Linked DNA regions of Homo sapiens. The protein of the gene in region 1 interacts with the protein of each later gene in a pairwise test. Each region holds a gene or a part of one and is shown on either strand. Other genes may lie near its edges.

What was found. Proteins that work in one complex are often made in the same cells at the same time.
Region 2: the proteins of CDC7 (region 1) and MCM5 interact in a two-hybrid assay, tested with the Homo sapiens proteins (one large-scale study listed by BioGRID).
Region 3: the proteins of CDC7 (region 1) and TSNAXIP1 interact in binary tests that used the Homo sapiens proteins (3 or more experiments, as listed by UniProt).
Region 4: the proteins of CDC7 (region 1) and STAM2 interact in binary tests that used the Homo sapiens proteins (3 or more experiments, as listed by UniProt).

Annotation. Positions count from the first base shown.
Region 1 is NC_000001.11:91,517,540-91,521,599, forward strand, and holds part of CDC7 (cell division cycle 7-related protein kinase), read left to right. Parts: intron 1-993; exon of another isoform or gene 994-1,136; intron 1,137-2,590; coding exon 2,591-2,740; intron 2,741-4,060. UniProt on the Homo sapiens protein: Kinase involved in initiation of DNA replication. Phosphorylates critical substrates that regulate the G1/S phase transition and initiation of DNA replication, such as MCM proteins and CLASPIN.
Region 2 is NC_000022.11:35,416,860-35,420,639, forward strand, and holds part of MCM5 (DNA replication licensing factor MCM5), read left to right. Parts: intron 1-884; coding exon 885-997; intron 998-3,024; coding exon 3,025-3,153; intron 3,154-3,780. UniProt on the Homo sapiens protein: Acts as a component of the MCM2-7 complex (MCM complex) which is the replicative helicase essential for 'once per cell cycle' DNA replication initiation and elongation in eukaryotic cells.
Region 3 is NC_000016.10:67,816,609-67,820,388, forward strand, and holds part of TSNAXIP1 (translin-associated factor X-interacting protein 1), read left to right. Parts: intron 1-3,780. UniProt on the Homo sapiens protein: Possible role in spermatogenesis.
Region 4 is NC_000002.12:152,148,264-152,152,043, reverse strand, and holds part of STAM2 (signal transducing adapter molecule 2), read left to right. Parts: intron 1-1,814; coding exon 1,815-1,899; intron 1,900-3,743; coding exon 3,744-3,780.

The DNA of each region.
Region 1 (4,060 bases):
TATAATTGGTTTGAGGTATTTGTGGGACATCCAAATAGAGATTTCCAGCAGAATCAAAGTTAAGTCTGATGCTCAGCGAAGGAGCTGGGCTAGAAATACAGATGAATGTCATCATTATATAAATGACAGTTGAAGCCATGAAGTGGATGGACCAATCAGGGAGAGTATACAGAGGGAGAAGTTAAAACTCTGAGGAATATCCGTCAGCACTTAAGGCTTGGAGAAAACATTGAAGGAGCAGGCAGAGGTACCAAAGGAGCTAAGAAAGGCAAGTAGGGCCGGGCACAGTGGCTCATGCCTATAATACCAGCACTTTGGGAGGCCAAGGCAGGCAGATCACTAGGTCAGGAGTTCGAGATCAGCCTGGCCAATATGGCGAAATCCCGTCTCTACTAAAAAGTACAAAAAATTAGCAGGGCATGGTGGCACACACCTGTAGTTCCAGCTACTGGGGAGGCTGAGGCAGGAGAATTGAACCCGGGAGGCAGAGGTTACAGTGAGCCAAGATCGCACCATTGCACTCCAGCCTGAGCAACAGAGTGAGACTCAGTCTCAAAAAAAAAAAAAAAAAAAAAAAGGTGATACAGTAGCCCAAGGAACAGAGAGCAGATAACCTGGTGATACTAGGAAGTCAACAATTAAGAGAGATGTCAACTTTAAGAAAAAAAAAAAAGAGCTTTTTAACATCAAGTTGAGCTAGTCGTAATCTTTAACTACCAGAATTCAGAAGATTAAAGTTTCTATAGTGGGAATGTAAATTAGTACAACCACTATGGAAAACAATTTGGACGTTCCTCAAAAAACTAAAAATAGAGCTACTACATGATCCAACAATCCCACTGCTGGGTATATACCCAAAAGAAAGGAAATCAATGTACCGAAGAGGTATCTGCACTCCCATGTTTGTTGAAGCACTATTCATAATAGCCAAAATTTGAAAGCGACCTAAGTGTCCGTCAACAGATGAATGGATAAAGAAAATGTGGTACTTACACACAATGGAAGTACTATTCAGCCACGAAAAAGAAGATCTTGTCATTTGCAACAACATGGATGGAACTGGAGATCATTATGTCAGGTGAAATAAGCCAGGCACCGAAAGACAAGAGTTGCATGTTCTCACTAATTTGTGGGATCTAAAAATTAAAACAATTGAACCCATAGAGAGCAGAAAGATGGTTACCAGAGGCTGAGAAGGGTGGTGGGAGGGTGTGGGGGATGTGGGGACAGCTGATGGGTACAAAAAATAGTTATAAAGAATGAATTATCCAGCACTTTGGGAGGCCAAGGCAGGTGGATTGCTTGAGCTCAGGCACTCGAGACCAGCTTGGGCAACATGGTAGAACCCTATTTCTACCAAAAATACAAAAAAGTAGCTGGATGTGGTAGTGTGCATCTGTGGTCCCAGCTACTCAGGAGGCTGAGGTGGGAGGATCACTTGAGCCTGGGAGGCGGAGGTTGCAGTGAGCCGAGATCACACTACCACACTCTAGCCTGGGTAACAGAGCCAGACCCCATCTCGAAAAAAAAAAAAAAAGAATGAATTAAGACCTAGTATTTGATAGCACAGCAGGGGGATTATAGTCAGTAATTTAATTGTGCAGTTTAAAATAACTAAAAGAGTACTTTGAGGGGCTGAGGCAGGCAGATCACTTGAGCCCAGGAGCTTGAGACCAGCCTGGCCAATGTGGCAAAACCTCGTCTCTACTAAAAATACAAAAAAAAAAAAAAAAAAAAAAAAAAGAGCTGGGCATGGTGACATGCCTGTAATCCCAGCTACTCAAGAGGCTGAAGCATGAGAATTGCTTGAACCTGGGAGGCAGAGATTGCAGTGAGCTGAGACTGTGCCACTGCACTCTAGTCTGGGCCACAGAGGGAGACCTTGTCTCAAAAAGAAAAAAAGAAAAGAATATAATTGGATTGTTCGTAACACAAAGGATAAATGCTTGAGGGAATGGATACCCTGTTTTCCAGGATGTGATTATTACACACTGCATGCCTGTATCAAAACATCTTATATACCCCATCAATATATACACCTACTGTGTACTCAGAAAAATTAAAGTCTTCACAGTCACAAAAAAATAAAAAAGTAATTTTTTAAAAGTTTCTATAGCAGTAGTTGGTGCTAGTGTCAGCTGAAGAAGAGCTTCTAATGTTCATTACTTTTCACTAAAATGAAAGCACTTTGACCAGTATGGTATGTAATTCTCAAGGATCATTCAGATTTTTTCCCACATAGCTATTTTTGGATTCCTTTTGATCCTATAAAATGTGCGTTTACTTAGTGTTTCCTAGTGATTAAATATCCTTTTAAATTTACCAACACGTTGCTCAAGAAAGAAAACATATTTTGCAGTGAGGATTCTCAGTCCTGGTTGTACATTAAAATCACCTGAGGAACTTTTTTAAAACATTGATGCCTGAGCCCTACTTCAGAACTGTTCAATCAAAATCTTTGGGTCTGGGCATCTGAAATTTTTAAGGCTCCCAAGGTGATTCTAATGCATAATAAATGTTGAGGACTATTGATTTAGATGATAAAATTATAGATTTGAAATTTATTTTTAAAATTTGTCTTCTGTTGCAGCAATTGACATGTGGTCTGCAGGTGTCATATTTCTTTCTTTGCTTAGTGGACGATATCCATTTTATAAAGCAAGTGATGATTTAACTGCTTTGGCCCAAATTATGACAATTAGGGGATCCAGAGAAACTATCCAAGCTGCTAAAACTTTTGGTAAGCAGTTTTGTATTATAGAACCAAACAAAATGCCTTTGATTATCTCCTACAAATCACTTAATAAATTATTGTGAAATTTTCTTTACAAATAAACATTCAGTCTTGATAAAGTTCTCTAATATTAAGTAGAAAATTCTTCAGTTGCTTGAAAATAAATTTATCACCTCTCTATACATATAATCATTTAATCTTATTAAGCACAAAGTAATACACTGTTGCAGTATTTAAAGTTTACCTTTATAATTTTATAAGAATAAGGAGTAAAATCTTAACTCCTTTTAGTTATGGTTTGACTTTTATTACATAAATTTACCTTTTATTAAAGGCATGTTTTACTTTGTAATATGTTTTACTTTTTTATTGTCTTTTAAACATCAGATGCACTATGTCTTGGTACTTAGAGTGTCCTTGCCTTAAATGATCTTAGGCTATACTAACAAGTAAACAGTTAATTATTAATACAGTGTAATAAGGACTAGGGAAGAGAATGGAAATGTGTGTTGTCAGGTTGTGTAGGTTTACGGTAGCAGAGAAGCAGAATGCATAGAAGGCCTTAACTGATGGGATATTATTGTAAGCATATATTGGACTTGGATGTCATCTCCTTAGCCACGCAAGTTCTTCAAGACTGGGATGTGCAGTGTACTTCATAGGGCACATAAGAATTATCTCAGCCTTGCTCTGGCCAACAATCTGAACTCAAGTGCCCATTTAATGTTTATTTTCCACGCTCAGTTATAGTTAATACTTTCCAAGGAATAAGTGGGATTGACTCAGCTTACTACCATACAATACAGAACACCTCAGGAGACAAAGTTTCAGCCAGCCTACCTCAAGAGTAGCTGGGCTGTCTTGTGCTCAACCCCAGGATCAGTGGGTCTTAACCAGAGTTGCATGTCAGAATTATCTGAGAATCTTTAAGAAATACATATGCCTGCCCACTCAGCCTATTCTTGGAAAATATGATTCAGAAAAACAAGATACTTAGGAAGGCTCCAGCCTTGTTAGTTTGAAAAAGCAAGTGATTCTGACTAAGAAACTATGGGTGTTTAAGAACCACTGCAAAAATTACTGCCCTTGCTTATGCACTAGTGCTATAGTCTAATCTACAAGAAAAACTTAGTGGTGGTTGTGAAGAAAGCCTCATCTTAATAGAGGCTTGCCAAAATATGTTTCTACAGTAAAGTCAGTCCACGATTTGTAACTATCTTGTACTTATTGTAAGAAAATTTTATTTGAAGATAATAGGATGAAATAATACAAGGGAAAAAAAGTGACCATGAGTGGAAAGCAAGATTGATATCTTAGAAATGGCAT
Region 2 (3,780 bases), on another chromosome or scaffold:
CAGGCTTGTGATTGTGTGGGAAGGAGAATGGAGAACAAGGGCCTTGGCTGGCAAAGTCCTGACTGTCAGGCTGTGAAATTGGGGAGCACGTGAGAGGGCGGTTGTTGTGGACTGCAGAGGATTGAAGCAGGGTCTGGAGTCCTGTGGCCTGCTCTGCCTCTGCCGTGAGTGATAAGCTGTGTGATTTGGGCTAAATCAGTTTCTCCCTGGGCCTCAGTCCCTTATATATGAAACAGAGGAGTTGACATTGGGTTATGAGTAATAGAACCTCAGTTCTGGTTAGTAAATTTTTCAAAGAAAAAAACATAGTGGTTTATAGAATTGGTAAGTCCGGCGGCTTAAGGCCCAGGTAGATCTGGATTCTCAAACAACTGTCTCTGCCTTTCTGTTCTGCTTCCCTTGGTGGAATCTTTGTACTTGGGCAGCTGTTCCTCTTGTGGTGGCAAAGACAAAATAAGATTTTGTCCTGTTAGCTTGTAGCTTAACAGCCCCCAGGAAAGAGGAGGCCCCGTCTTTTCCAGTACTTCTATCAAAAGTCCCAGGATAGACTCCTATTGGCTTGGGTAGATCCTATGTCCATGCCCAAGTTGGGGTGGACAAGATACATGCCCCAAGTCGGGGTGGACAAGCTGAACCCACCCCTTTATGGACCAGGGCAGAGGAGCAAGGAGCATTAAGTTCTCTCTAAAGGAGAATCCAGATGCTCCCATCAGAACGAGGGCCTGGTGCTGAGCAAACAGGCTGAGCACGCCTGAGATCTCAGCACCCTTTCCGGCTCCTTGATGCCAGGGCCCCATCAGCTCTTTCTGGCTGTTCCACCTCAGTGCTGGGACTCAGGCTTGGGACGGCCTGTGGGATGACCCATTATCCCCTCTGCTCTCCAGATGCTGGCCAAGCATGTCATCACTCTGCACGTGAGCGCACTGACACAGACACAGGCTGTGGAGGGCGAGATTGACCTGGCCAAGCTGAAGAAGTTTATTGCCTACTGCCGAGTGTGAGTCCTGGACGCAGGCCCACGGGGGTGAGGTTGCCCAGCTTCCCTGGGTGGGAGAGAACCCAGTCCCCTGGTCCTGCTCCTCCTCATGAAGAACAGCCCAGATGTTGCTGTTCTGAGGTTCTCAGCTCTACTGAATCTGCTCTGCTCCCTTCTAACCTTGCGTAGCTCACTGGCTCTTGGCTTCAGTTTTCCCACCTCCACACCAAGGAGGTGGGATTTAGATGGTCTTGAAGACCTCCTCGAGTCTGACATGCAGGGAGGCAGTGAAGTGTAGACATGGTAGACATGGGCTCTGGGTCATACCTGCCTTCACTCTATGACTTTGGGCAAGTTGGTTGGCCTCTCTGAGCCTTGATTTCCCCAGGCCTATCGATGTTTGCTAGGATTTTTGTAAGGATTGCACAAGATGATGAGTAAGTGCTTGGCATAGCCCTGCCCTGGGTAAATACTCAGTGAGTCGCAGCTGCAATTTGATTGTTCTCACAGATTTTCAATAATAATAATTATATACATAGTACTGGCTGGTTGCAGTGGCTCACGCTGTAATCCCAGCACTTTGGGAGGCGGAGGCAGGTGGATCACTTGAGGTCAGGAGTGCGAGACCAGCCTGGCCAACGTGGCGAAACCCCATGTCTACTAAAAATACAAAAATTAGCCGGGTGTGGTGGTGCACACCTATAGTCCCAGCTACTCAGGAGGCTGAGGCAGGAGAATTGCTTGAACCCAGGAGGCAGAGATTGCAGTGAGCTGAGATCGTGCCATTGCACTTCAGCCTGGGCAACAGAGTGAGACTCTGTCTCAAAAAAAAAAAATATATATATATGTGTACACACACACACACACACACACACTCACTCTTACACACTACTTTCTTTGTGCCAGGCATTCTGAATTACTATTCAGTATTTTCTATATGAATAAATTATAACCCTCCCCCAAAACCTACCAGGTAAGGTGTGCTATTATTCCCTTCCCTTTATGGATGGGGAAGCTGAGGCAAAGGAAGTTAAGTAACTTGCCCAAGGTCACATGCCAGAGGTAGTGGAGCCAGGATGTGAACCCAGCTGCTTGCCTCCAGAGGCTGTGCTCTTAACCACAGTGCTTCGATTCTTGTCGTACAGCGCTTTGGTGATCTTTTGAAGGAGCTAAAACCCAGGGGTTGAGGGCTCTTTGAATGCACTACCAGTGGGGGGCTGGTGGGTCCCTGATTCAGCACCTCTGCCAGGGTGAGTGGGTAGTCCCTGGGTCTTCATCCAAGTCTGAGCTCTGTGTGGCCCAGTCTTGAGAGGCTTGGGCCCACAGCTGTGAGTCAGGGAGCCCTGGATTCTAATCTTCCCTCTGCACTAAGTCCCCAGGTAGCCTTGGGGAGTTCCCTCCCTCCCTCTGGGTCTCAGTCTCCACATCCTTAGGATGGTTGAGCTAAGGCTTTCCCTACATCAGTGACTGTCAGTTGGCCTGGGGGCTAGAGGGGAGGGGATGGGATAGGGTAGATGCTGATCAGACTTCCCCACACCTACCGTCCCAGGAGAGTCTGAGGTGCTCCCAGCCCCTGGACTGCAGTCACCGCCAAGCCTCCTGTGGGTGTCATCAGCTTGTCGTGTCTTCAGATGTGTTGGGTGGAGGAGTTTGAGACTGCTGCAAAGCCCACCACCCAGTGGGCCTCCATGCCGCTGTGATTGTGCCATTGTTCATTACATGTATGGGGGACCTTGTGGCAAGACACCACACAGCGTCTAACAGTGGGGAAGAGGCGGTTTTCACCCTGCAGACGTGCCTGGCTTTTCTTCACCTGTTTTTTAAGAGAGGCACCCATATTTCTCCCCAGTGTTGATGTTTGTGGCAGCTGCCCACAGCCAGATTTCACTTAAATCTTTTCCGATTGTTGTCCCCCAGCCCATATGAGTGGGCAGCTGTGGTGTGGTGGGAAAGTGCATGTCTGTAAGCTGGCAGGGGGCTGGGGGAAAGGGTAGGTGCCCTAAGAGTCCCTCCTGGCCTCACACCAGCCTCTCCCCACTGTCCTGCAGGAAGTGTGGCCCCCGGCTGTCAGCAGAGGCTGCAGAGAAACTGAAGAACCGCTACATCATCATGCGGAGCGGGGCCCGTCAGCACGAGAGGGACAGTGACCGCCGCTCCAGCATCCCCATCACTGTGCGGTGAGCAGGCGGGCAGGGCTGGGCCATGGCAGATGGGGCTTGCTTTACACAGCAGGGTGTGCTTGGCAACCAGGGGCAGTGGTCCAGGCTTTTCACTTGGCACAGGCCCATAGTAGCTCTGGGCAGGAAGAGTCCCTTTGGAGCATAAACTATGGCCTCCTTGATCTCAATGATGATCCATGTTTCTTGATTTAAGGCCGGGCAAACCTAGACCCCTCTTGTCTGAATTTGGCCTGGCTTCTCCCATTGTAGGAAGCCCGAAGGGAGGGAAGGACCCAGGCCTGGGAGTCAAGAGTCTTGGGTCCCAGCCTCTAGCCCACTGTGTGACTGTAGGGAAATTACATTCCTTCTCTGGCCCTCAGTGCTTTTAGCTCCTAACTCTGTTCATTCTTGTGACTTTGTAGACAATACAGTGGGTAAGAGTTGGGATTTACCTGGTTTGAATCCTGTCTCCAGCACTGACTGGTTGGAAATGGATTTGGCTATAAGTAATGGTAAATCCAGATAAAGTAGCTTAAAGAAATAGGAAGTTCATTTCTCTTTTCTGTAGCACTGTCTGGAGGAAGATGGTATGGGGACTGGTGTGAGGACTCCTCAAGCTCCCCCTTACTCTTAGTCCGAGATGGC
Region 3 (3,780 bases), on another chromosome or scaffold:
TCTGAGGCTCCCGGGCACCCTTCTCAGCTGCCACCTTCTGTGGGCCAGGCTTTTTCATTCTTTCTTTTGCGCGGCATCAACCACCAGGGGGCAGTGTTCCCTCCCGCCGTCCCTCCGGGGCCGCCTTCCCGTTTTTACCTACAGGGGGAAGCAGAGAGCACGGAGCGCCCGGGAGCACTGCGTTCCAGCCACCCGGGCGGAGATCCCTCAGCTGTTAATAACCTAGCCGAGACCCGGCCCTGGCAGCTGGTTCTCCAGCTTCCACTCGCCTCTGCAAGCAAAGGAGGGTAGCCACATTTTCTCCCGGTAGAAACAGTAGACAGAACACGAGGACTGGTCTTTTTTTTTTTTTTTAATATTAATTAATTTATTTTTTGAGACGGAGCCTCGCTCCTCGCCCAGGCTGGAGCGCAGTGGCACAGTCTTGGCTCACTGCAACCTCCACCTCCCAGGTTCAAGCGATTCTCCTGCCTCAGCCTCCCTAGTAGCTGGGACTACAGGCACGTGTCACCACACCTGGCTAATTTTTTGCGGTTTTTTTTTTGTTTTTTGTTTTTTTGAAACAGAGTCTTGCTTTGTCGCCCAGGCTGGAGTGCAGTGGCGCGATCTCGGCTCACTGCAAGTTCCGCCTCCCGGGTTCACGCCATTCTCCTGCCACAGTCTCCTGAGTAGCTGGGACTACAGGCGCCCGCCACCGCGCCCGGCTATTTTTTTTTTTTTTTTGTATTTTTAGTAGAGACGGGGTTTCACCGTGGTCTCGATCTCCTAACCTCGTGATCCACCCGCCTCGGCCTCCCAAAGTGCTGGGATTACAGGCGTGAGCCACCGCGCCCGGCCATTTTTTGCGTTTTTAGTAGAGACGAGGGTTTCACCGTGTTAGCCAGGATGGTCTCCGTCTCCTGACCTCGTGATTTGCCCGCCTTGGCCTCCCAAAGTGCTGGGATTACAAGCGTAAGCCACCGCGCCCGGCCAAGGACTGGTCTTTTACAAGTCTGAAAAACGGCCGGGCGCGGTGGCTCACGCCTGTAATCCCAGCACTTTGGGAGGCCGAAGTGGGTGGATCACCTGAGGTCAGGGGTTCAAGACCACCCTGGGCAACATGGTGAAACTCCGTTTCTACTAAAAATACAAAATTTGCCGGGTGTGGTGGTGCGTGCCTGCAGTCTCTTCGGGAGGCTGAGGCAGGAGAATTGCTTGAACTTGGGAGGTGGAGGTTGCAGTGAGCCAAGATAGTGCCACTGCGCTCCAGCCTGGGCAACAGAGTGAGGCTCCGTCTCAAAATAAATGAATAAATAAAAACAAATAATAAAAAATAGTCTGGGCCGGGCGCAGTGGCTCACACCTGTAATCCCAGCATTTTGGGAGGCTGAGGTGGGCAGATCACTAGGTCAGGAGTTCAAGACCAGCCTGGCCAACATGGTGAAACCCCATCTCTACTAAAAATACAAAAATTAGCTGGGCGTGGTGGCATGCGCCTGTAATTCCGGCTACTCGGGAGGCTGAGGCAGGACAATCACTTGAACCCAGGAGGTGGAGGCTGCAGTGAGCAGAGATTGTGCCACTGCACCCCAGCCTGGGCGACAGAGCGAGACTCAGTCTCAAAAAAATAAATAAATAAAATTCTGAAAAACAAGGCTGGCTCACACCTGTAATCCTAACACTTTGGGAGGCCAAAGAAGGAAGACTGCTTGAGACCAGGAGTTTGAGACCAGCCTGGCAACACAGGGAGATTTCATCTCTACAAAAAAGATTTTTTAAATTAACCAGGAATGGTGGTGTGCCCATGTAGTCCTAGCTACTCAGGAGACTGAGGTGGGAGGATCTCTTGAGCCCGGGAGTTTGTAGTTACTGTGAGGTGTTATTGGGTCACTGCACTCCAGCCTGGGTGACAGAGTAAGACCCTGTCTCTAAGAAAAAAATAAAAAATAAACTCCCAGGTGTCTTCCAGGGTTATTTTGTGCTTTTATAAAAATTAGGCTGGGCATCATGACTCAAGCCTGTAATCCCAGCACTTTGGGAGGACAAGGTAGGAGGATCTCTTGATCCCAGGACAGTTCGAGAAGCCCAGCGTGGGCAACATAGTGAGACCCCATCCTTTTTTTTTTTTTTTTTTGAGACAGAGTCTCTCTCTGTCGCCCAGACTGGAGTACAGTCGTGCCATGTCTGCTCACTGTGGCCTCTGCCTCCAGGGTTGAGGCAATTCTTCTGCCTCGGCCTCCGAAATAGCTGGGATTACAGGCGTGCACTACCAGGCCTGGTTAATTTTTGTATTTTTAGTAGAGATGGGGTTTCAACATGTTGGCCAGGCTGGCCTCAAATTCCTGGCCTCAGGTTATCCGCTTGCCTCCGCCTCCCAAAGTGCTGGGAATCAGGCGTGAGCTGGGCGCGATGGCTCACACTTGTAATCTCTACTAAAAATACAAAAGAACTGGGCATGGTGGCAGGCCAGCTACTCGGGAGTCTGAGGCAGGAGAATTGCTTGAACTCAAGAGGCAGAGCTGCAGTGAGCAGAGATCGTGCTACTGTACTGCACTCCAGCTTGGGCAACTCCAGCTTGGCAACTCCATCTCAAATAAATAAATAAATACATACATATAAACATACATACATAAATAATTACATCCATTTTGATAGTCTTTTTTTTTTTTTTTTGAGATGGAGTTTCACTCTTGTCCCCGTGGCTGGAGTGCAAGGGGTCGATCCCAGCTCACTGCAACCTCTGCCTCCCGAGTTCAAGCGATTCTCCTGCCTCAGCCTCCCGAGTAACTGGGAATACAGGCGTGTGCCACCATGCCCGGCTAATTTTTGTATTTTTAGTAGAGATGGAGTTTCACCATGTTGGCCAGGCTGGTCTCAAATTCCTGACCTCAAGTGATCTGCCCACCTTGGCCTCAAAGTGCTAAAAGTCGCACATCTTGGCCTCCCAAACTGCTGGGATTACGGGCATGAGCCACTGTGCCCGGCCAGAATAGCTAATCTTTACTGAGTTCCTAGCAAGTACCAGGGTCCATGTGAAGCACACATTATGCTTTCCCTCTTTTTTTTTTTTTTTTTTTGAGACAGAGTTTTGTTCTTGTTGTCCAGGCTGGAGTGCAATGGTGCAATCTCAGCTCACCGCAACCTCCGCTTCCCGGGTTCAAGGGATTCTCCTGCCTCAGCCTCCTGAGTAGCTGGGACTATAAGCACATGCCACCACACCTGGCTAAATTTTTTTTTTTTTTTTTTTTTTGAGACTGAGTCTCGCTCTGTCGCCAGGCTGGAGTGCAGTGGCGCAATCTTGGCTCACTGCAAACTCCGCCTCCTGGGTTCATGCCATTCTCCTGCCTCAGCCTCCAGAGTAGCTGGGACTACAGGTGTCCGACACCACGCCCGGCTAATTTTTTGTATTTTTAGTAGAGACGGGGTTTCACTGTGTTAACCAGGATGGTCTCGATCTCCTGACCTCGTGATCCATCCGCCTTGGCCTTGCAAAGTGCTGGGATTACAGGCGTGAGCCACCATGCCCGGCCTAATTTTTTTTTGTATTTTTAGTAGAGACGGGGTTTCACCGTGTTAGCCAGGATAGTCTCGATCTCCTGACCTCGTGATCCACCCACCTCAGCCTCCGAAAGTGCTGGGAATTACAGGCGTGAGCCACCGCGCCCGACTATGCTTTCTCACTGCATCCTCACATCAATACACTGTGACAAAGACTACCATCATCCCTATTTTACAGACGTGAGAACTAAGGCTCAGAGAAGTTGTGACATAGCTAATAAGGGACATTTGAGACTTAACCCG
Region 4 (3,780 bases), on another chromosome or scaffold:
ACGTGAGCCCCGGGAGATAAAGGCTGCAGTGAGTTGTGATCACACCACTGCACACCAGCCTGGGCAACAGAGTGAGACCCTGTCTCAGTAAGCCAACCAACCAACCAACCAACCAACCCAGATGTTCATGAACTGGTGAATGAATAAATGTGGTATATCTATACAATGGAATATTATTTAGCCATAAGAAGAAATGAAGTACTGGTACATGCTACAACGTGGATGACCCTTGCAAACATTATGCCAAATAACAGAAGCCAGTCAGAAAAGAACATATATTGTGTGGTTCTATTTATATGAAAAATCCGGAATAGGTAAATCTTTGGAGACAGAAAGTAGACAAGTGGTTGCGTAGGGCTGGGAATATGTGGGGAGAATGAACAGTGACTGCCAATGGGTATGGATTTCTTTTGGAAGTGATTAAATGTTCTCAAATTAGATACTGGTGTTAGTTGTACAACTCTATGAATATAGTCAAAACATTGAATTGTACATTTTAAATGTGTAAATTGTATTGATACATGAATTATAGCGATAAAGCTGTCTTAAAAAACTCATGTAGCTGGGTGCGGTGGCTTATGTCTGTAATCAGTCCTAGCACTTTGGGAGGCTGAGGTGGGCGGATCACAAGGTCAGGAGTTTGAGACCAGCCTGACCAATATGGTGAAACCCCATCTCTACTAAAAATACAAGAATTAGCCGAGTGTGGTGGCAGGCGCCTGTAGTCTCAGCTACTCAGGCGGCTGAGGCAGGAGAATTGCTTGAACCTGGGAGGTGGAGGTTGCAGTGAGCTGAGATCGTGCCATTGCACTCCAGCCAGCCTGGGCAACAGAGCAAGACACTGTCGAAAAAAAAAAAAAAAAAAGAACTCATGTAAATATTATAAATTCTTCTGCTGTTAGCTTTTTTGACTCAGCGTTATAAGCCCAAGCAAATCATATTTTGAGATTCATAAATTTTTGTTCATTTAATTTTGTATTCCTCATTTCATATTTCGTTGTATGAATTTATTAATCAATTTTCCTTTTTGCTATTGAAAACAGTGCTTCAGGCTGGGTGCAGTGGCCTGTAATCCCAACATTTGGGAGCCAAGGAGGATTCCATGAGCCCAGGAGTTCAAGACCAGCCTGGGCAACATAGTGAGACCCCTTATCTATTAAAAAAATTTACAAAACCAATGCTTTATTGGACAGTGTAGTGCATATTTACTTGTATGATATACTTTCTAATTTTTTTAAGAGGTAGAGTCTCACCCTGTCATCCAGGCTGGAGTGCGGTAGCATGATAATAGCTCACTGCAGCCTTGAGGTCATAGGCTCAAGCAATCCTCCCATTTCAGCCTCCCAAGTAGCTAAGATTACAGGCATTTGCCACCATGCCTGGCTAATTTTTAAAATTTATTTTTCGTAGAAACAGGGTCTATCTATATTGCCCAGGCTGGTCTCGAACTCCTGGCCTCAAACGATCTTCCTGCCTTGGCCTCCCATGCCTGGGATTACAGGCATGAGCCACCATGCCCGGCCTGGATTATACATCTTTAAAACTTTCTTCCAAATTAGAATTTGATGGGATTATTGATACTTAGTAATTTGTTTATTTAGAAGGCATTTTATTGCTTTACCTCAAGATATTTAGTTCATTTAATTATACAATTTAAAATTGAAGTTAGTAGAAGTACTTTTGTCTTCTGAAGGTCGTCTGTAGTATCTTCGGCAATAGAAAAGGTAGGATTTCTTAACTGTTGGACCTTTACTGGTATTTTAGTGTTATATGAGATGTGTCCTCATTGTTGTGTATGCCAATATATTTTATAGAAAAAGCCACGAATGAGTACAACACTACAGAAGATTGGAGTCTTATTATGGACATATGTGACAAAGTTGGAAGTACTCCTAATGGGTAAGATGTCCAGTCATGCTCAGTGAATGTCTAGGAACTTGATAACCAGTGTCTCTTTTTGTGATGTAACTTTGAGAGGAAAATGAGACTTTATCACAGTTGACCCTTGAACAACACAGATTTAAACTGCGAGGGTTCACTTATACATAGGTTTTCTTCCACCTCTGCTACCTCTAAGACAGCAAGACCAACCCCTCTTCCTCCAACTCATGATTTCCTTAACAACATTTTTTTTTCTCTAGCTTACCTTATTGTAAGAATACAGTATATTATGTATATACAAAATATATGTCCATCTACTGTTTATGGTATTGGTGAGGCTTCTGGTCAAGAGTAGGCTGTTAGTTGGCTGGGCGCAGTGGCTCACGCCTATAATCCCAGAACTTTGAGAGGCCGAGGCGAGCAGATCACTTGAGGTCAGGAGTTCGAAACCAGCCTGGCCAACATGGTGAAACCCCATCTCTACTAGAAATACAAAACTTAGCTGGACATAATGGTGTGCGCCTGTAATCCCAGCTACTTGAGATGCTGAGACAGGAAAATCGCTTGAACCCAGGAGGCAGAGCTTGCAGTGAGCCGAGATGGCACCACTGCACTCCAGCCTGGACGGTAGAGCGAGACTCTGTCTCAAAAAAAAAAAAAAAAAAAGAGTAGACTATTAATAGTGAAGTTTTTGGGGAATCAAAAGTTATACACAGATTTTCGGCTGCGTGGGGTGTTGGTGTCCTTAACTTTCATGTAGTTAAAGGGTCAGTTGTTTTACTTTTGGGACATAAAAGTTAAAAAAGCCTGAATGCTGGATTTATGGGATTAATTTACATGAAAAAGAGTTCAACTGAAAATCTGCTATAGTAACACACATAATTAAAGCCTTGACACAATAGGATACATGATAACAATGTATAGGTGAGTTATTTAAGGAATTCCTCTGGGACTTCTATATGTATGGGAACTTTTAAATAATGAAGTAGATAACACAGTAGATAATATAACAAAAAAGTCTTCAAATAATATACATATAAATATAATAGATTAACAATGAAAAAAGTGAATATAAAAAAGTGCTTTTGGGGAGATGTGGCAATTAGCTGAACTATATGTTAGAAATTTAGAAGAGTGATGAAAGCATTTGTTTTAACATTAAAGCTTTTCATAGTACATTCACATGTTTATACTTGAACCTCTTAAAATTGTATATCATGTTAGATTTTTTTCAAGATAAGCTTTTGCTGTTTGAAAGCTAAACCTGTCTTGAAGAAATAGAAAGATCTGGTATACGTCTCTTGTGTTGACAGATCTTTTGTGAAATGGTTTGTCTCTTAATTTTGGAATACACAACATTTGCAACATGCTTTTTTTTTTTAAAGTTCTATGAGCCTATAAACAAAATATTGTGTAAAATCATTTTATAGATTTATTCCTTTAACAATATGAAATTTCCAGGATTTTAGTTTAGTTTATTTTTATTTTATACTTTCTTTATTTTGAGACACGGTCTCTGTCATCCAGGCTGGAGTATAGTGGCATGACACAGCTCACAGCAGCTTCCTGGGCTCAAGCAGTCCTCTTGCCTCAGCCTCCTGAGTAGCTAGGAGTACAGACACATGCCACCATGCCCAGCTAATTTTTAAGTTTTTTATAGAGATGAGATCTTACTTTGTTTTCCAGGCTGGTCTCAAATTCATGGGCTCAAGTGATCCTCCCGCCTTGGCTTCCCGAAGTGTTGGAATTACAGGCATGAGCCATTAAATATAAAATTATTTGGTAATAGAATAATACCTTAATGTTTGAATTAAATTTATCAGTAAATACTTAACTGTCTCTCTCTCTCTTTTTTTTTTTAGAGCGAAAGATTGCCTAAAAGCCATAATGAAAAGGGTA